Regions from separate parts of the Homo sapiens genome. Here region 1 is linked to region 2. Evidence: fine-mapped expression QTL. Tissue or cell type: whole blood. Region 2 holds a variant in brackets; the other region holds the start of a gene. All regions are shown on one strand. Distances are between the middles of the regions.

Region 1 (2,685 bases), 21 kb after region 2:
GATTACAGGTGCCCACCATCATGCCTGGCTAATTTTTGTACTTTTAGTAGAGACAGGGTTTCACCATGTTGGCCAGGCTGGTCTCGAAGTCCTGGCCTCAGGTGATTTGCCCGCCTCGGCTTCCCAAAGTGCTGCAGCGCCTGGCCGAAGTCAGGAGTTCTTGACCAGCCTGGGCAACACAGTAGACCCCATCTCCTAAAGGAAAGGATTACCTTGTACATTATACAGCAAAAGTTCTTAAAATTGTTTTTAAAATGTATCTCTTCCTTTAAGTTTCCACTCCCTATGTAAGTTGCCTATCCCTCTTTCCCTCCTTTTTGGGCTAGTATCGTCTCCAGCTTGCTTCCAAGTCCGCTAGGGAATACACACGCGCGCACACACACATACACGTGTGTGTTTACGTACTAAAAATATATAAACATTAATAATGCAAGATGGGGCCGGGCGCTGTGTCTCACGCCTGTAATCCCAGCACTTTGGGAGGCCGAGGCGGGCGGATCACGAGGTCAGGAGTTCGAGACCAGCCTGGCCAACATGGTGAAACCCCGTCTCTACTAAAAATACAAAAATTAGTCGGGCGTGGTGGCAGGCGCCTGTAATCCCAGCTACTAGGGAGGCTGAGGCAGGAGAATTGCTTAAACCTGGGAGGCGGAGGTTGCAGTGAGCCGAGATCGCGCCACTGCACTCCAGCCTGGGCAACAAGAGCGAAACTCCGTCTCAAAAACAAACAAACAAACAAACAAACAAAAACCAAGATGGATTGTAAGAGGTATATATATACACATAGGACTCCATTTCTTGGGGGACCTGGAGGGGAGAAAGTCACACCCATACACACACGTACACGCATGTATACAAAAATGAATATATGCTCAGATATATACAATATATAAATGGGCAAATATAAAATCCCCTTTGTGCCAACGAATCCATTCATTCATTCATCAAATATTTGAGCGTCCACTTTGCCTAGAACCAAGTTATCTGTTGGGATGAGCAAGGCATAAGAGGTTCTAGCTCTCATAGAACTTAGAATTCTACTGGAGGAAGATGAGAACAAATACAAAATGTAAACAGTGGAAGTTCTGTAAAAACAACACAGAGCTTTGTGAGAGTGATGCTTAGAATGCTCCTGATGTTCCATTGGGTGTTCGAGCAGGGGGAATGGACTCGGAGGTGAACTATGAGCCGAGATTCATTTTATAAACGGGAACACAGACACATGGACACTTGAAGGGCCTTGGTGGCCAGAAAACTGAAGGCAGGTTCCCATCCGTCTTGGCACCACTCTCCCGAATAGCAGTTTCAGGGAACTGCACAAGCCAAAACCAGCCGGTCGCAGAGTCCAGGAGCGCCTGCGCAAGAGGACGCCTGCGCAAGAGGACGCCGTCAGCTTGGCGTCAGCGCGCCGGGCTCTGGCCCGCCCCCTGTGACACCAGCCCCGCCCCACCCCGCCCCGCATACCCGTGCGCTGCCGCGCATGCTCCGAGCCCCGCCCCCGTGCGTCACAGAATGGCCTCGGACACCCAGGCAGTCCCTGACGTGTCGGGGAGGAGCCGGGCGCGGAGGTACGCTGAGTGGAGCTCGGGGCTGCGTAGGGGAGCTGAGCCGAGCGGCTGGGCGGGCCTGGCCGGGCCGGCGGAGGGGAGACGTCGGTTGAGCGGCGGCGAACATGCGCTTTTGACACATTGGAGGTGAGCCTGCAGCGCGGGGCCGCTCCCTAAGGGGCTGCGCTGGGCCGGCGGCGCCGAGGCCTGCCCTTGGGGAGCCTTCCCGGCCCGGGGCCGTGTCTGAGGCTCCGCCGGGGCGGGCCGGGCCGGGTTCCGGGGCGGCCAGCCTGGGGGCAACTGTTCCAACCGCTCTAACTGTCCCCTCCCTTCCCTGGTCCGATGTGTGGCCCCCCAGGGGCGCCTGCAAGGGAACGATTCCGGTGGCCTCCGGAAGATGTGCCCCGTTCCGGGTAGGGTGAGGGCTGGCGGTGACGGAGGCCGGGACGTGGCACCGTGGGCTGGGGCGCTGGCGGCGCAAGGAGTGGCCCAGTCGGAGGTGGCAGCGGCGCGCCCAGCCCGCCTCCTCCTACCCCCTCTTCGAAATTCCTTCATTTGCGAGGGTGGCTTGGAGCGGGGTTGCATTTTGATCTCTCAGTGCCTCTCTCCCATGGGGGGCGAGAGCGCGAGCAGCCCACGTTGGGCTCGGATTGGCATTCTCCTGACTCCCGCCCGGAACTGCTAATCATCCTCCCCCTGGAGTTCGGCAAAGTGTCACCAACGGGCTCGGGTTACTTGTGCTCGACTCTTTTCTTGCTGTAAGCCATGAGATGACCCTTTAAGTTTTGCAAAGGAGGTGAGAGTTCTGTCACCACTGATTATTACCTTCTATTTACGTAGCACCTTTACACGTTTCAGAGCACTCTTCTTCCTATCTTTTTCTAACCGCATCACCTTGTGGTTGCAACTGATTATGTTATCGCCATTTCGATGGGTAAATGGAGCTGGGATGGGGGTAATTATTTATACTTAGGTTCAACCAACTGGTGAGTGGTTTAGCTTGGATCATAATTTACATTTCTAGGCTCGGAGTTCTGGTTTCTTTTCGTGGGATTTTTATACCCTTCTCAGCTACAAAACAAGGCAGAAAATGTGACTTGCCAAAGATATGCCAGAAGCTGGTAGATTACTTACTCAA
Region 2 (2,685 bases):
AGTGACAGCTCTTCCCCATGCCTTTACCCTCCAAATACGGGGATGAAGGCAGGAAAGTGGAGGAGAGAACAGGACATCTGTCTGGAAGACCAGTGGCTTCCAAACTACACATGCAGGGGAGATGGGAAGGCTGAAGGCCTGGCTGAGAACTTGAATTTCTTCTTTCCTTCCCGAAGCACTGAAGTCTTGCTCAACCCCAGCTGAGTGATGAGGCGGGCAGGGTTGCCTCACTTCAGGGCAGCAGGCCCCAGCCTTCCTGGCTCTAATCCATTTCCCATCCTTGCGTATCTTTGGTCGGACGGTGATTCTCACTCTTCCTATTGACTTCTACTTTGTGTCAGCAAGTTCAGCGTGGGCCCCGTATGCTGCCGTGGATCTGATCAGCTGAGGCCTGAGACACAGGACCAGGTACATTGGGAGGAAAGAGCTGATTGGAGAAGGTCTGGGCCACATGAGGGTTTGCCTGAGAGATGCCAGAATGGGGGGCTCCTGATGTCTGAGGACCCTCTGTGCCCATGAGGCAGGCGGATTGTCAAAGGCTGAGGTCCATTTGGAAAGTTGGTTATGTCCCTGTGGCATGAGGGTTGGGTGACATAAAGAGACGGCTTTGGTGGTTTCCTGAAACCATATCATTTGCGCACATCTTCCCCCTGATATTCTGATCACCTTGATTTGGTTTCCTATTTCCTGAACTGCCCACATAGCATTTTTCTGGGTTGCAGAGGGAGTTCATAGGGTTCTGACAGGTTTATCTGGAGCCAACAGAGACAGTCAGTGAGATGCACTGAAGCCATGCTGAGCTGACCAAGTTAGGGGCTTGCGATCATGTCCTGGGACCTTGACTTCACTGCTCATGGGCCATTTGCTTCCCTCTGAACGTGTTTTCTCATCTACAAAATGTAAGACATCTCTATTTTTTTGGATGTTTGTAAACTTAAGCAGAATGATGATTGTGAAGGTGTTTTGTAAACTGTATGATTGTATTCTTCAGGGTTTGGGGTTACTTTTATTTCATTTTGTAAATGGAACTAGATGATTTTTCCTGATAATATAATATCTGATAAAAATTTAATCAGTACAGAGACATTGAAAGTGTTTGCATAATTCTATCTCTAAAGATTAATATTTTGGCATATAGACATCTAGACTTTTAAATGAATATTTTTATGTCAAATTCTACTTACTGTCTTTCAACCTTTTTTTCACTTAATAGTATCTCTTGAGTGTCATCTCTTGTTAATTCATAATTATCTACCTTGTCCTTTTTAACAGCTATGTAGTATTCCATTGTGTGGCTGTACCATGATTTATTAAACCAGTCTCCTATTGGTGGGTGTTTAGGGTGTTTCCAATTTATTTCTATAATAATAAACAGTGCCACAGTAAACATCACTGAATGTACATCTTTGCATACTATTATTTCCTTAGAATAAATCCTTAGATGTTGGATTGCTAGGTGAAAGGTTGTACATATATTTAGTTTTCATTCATTTGTCCAGATTCCCTTAAGAAATGTCGTACCATGGCCGGGCGCGGTGGCTCACGCCTGTAATCCCAGCACTTTGGGAGGCC[A/G]AGGCTGGCGGATCATGAGGTCAGGATATCGAGACCATCCTGGCTAACATGGTGAAACCCCGTCTCTACTAAAAATACAAAAAATTAGCCGGGCGTGGTGTTGGGCACCTGTAGTCCCAGCTACCCGGGAGGCTGAGGCAGGAGAATGGTGTGAACTTGGGAGGCGGAGCTGGCAGTGAGCTGAGATCGCGCCACTGCACTCTAGCCTGGACGACAGAGCGAGACTCCATCTCAAAAAAAAAAAGTGTCATACCATCTTATTTATTTATTTGAGGCCGGGTCTTGCTATGTTGCCCAGCCTGGTGTGAAACACTGGCCTCAAGAGATCCTCCCACCTCAGCCTCCTGAGTAGCTGGGATTACAGGCTTGAGCCACTGTACCTTCATTTGCTTAGTTTTTAGATACATATCACTGATTCCTCTCTAACAGACCTATAAAATTCCTGGCAATATGATCAACACATTAGATTATCTCTCAGTCTCTATTATCTATTAGATTATCTCTCAGTCTCTTTCTCTTATTCCTCAGAGACATCTGCCTGGTGCCTCATCCTACTGCTCCCTCTTGGATTGGTTTCTCCCCAGGACTGCTGAATGTTGTCATCTTAGGAGTTCCCTTTTCTCTTTCTTGTGTGAATCCTCTCTCTTTTGGATACCACCTTCCTTTCTTCCTCCCTCCCTCCCTCCCTCCCTCCTGCCTCTTCTCTCTTTCTGTCTCTCTGTCTCCCTCTCTCCCTCTCTCTTTCTCTCTTTCTTTCTTTTTTGAGATGGGATCTTGCTCTGTTGCCCAGGCTGGAGTGCAGTGGTGCGATCACAGCTTACTACAGTCTTGAATTCCCGGGCTTAAGCCATCCTCCCACCTCAGCCTGCCAAGTAGCTGGGGCCACAGGTGTCTGCCATCATACTTGGCTAATTTTTTGCATTTTTTTAGAGACGAGGTTTTGCCACTTTTTAATTTATATGTATACTTTTTTTTGCCACTTTATAGTTTTAACATTTATTTATTTATTTATTTATTTAGAGATAGGGTCTCACTCTGTTGCCCAGGCTGGAGTGCAGTGGCGCAATCACAGCTCACTGCAGCCTCGACCTCCCTGGGCTCGGGTGATTCTCT

Evidence for each region. PIP is the estimated chance that this variant, and not a neighbour inherited with it, causes the effect.
Region 1: it holds the start of NDEL1, and the variant in region 2 is fine-mapped to the expression of NDEL1 in whole blood (TOPMed, PIP above 0.99).

Annotation. Positions count from the first base shown.
Region 1 is chr17:8,434,352-8,437,036 of GRCh38, forward strand. It overlaps NDEL1 (nudE neurodevelopment protein 1 like 1), which reads left to right and starts at 1,533. Exons shown (of 9, transcript NM_030808.5): 1 at 1,533-1,694. RefSeq lists silencers at 1,337-1,506, 1,607-1,806, 1,847-2,086.
Region 2 is chr17:8,412,862-8,415,546 of GRCh38, forward strand. It overlaps a transcript of NDEL1 not described here. Among named protein-coding and RNA genes, the nearest start is that of RNF222, 16 kb to the left of the region's middle. The variant A/G (reference allele first, on the strand shown) is at 1,573.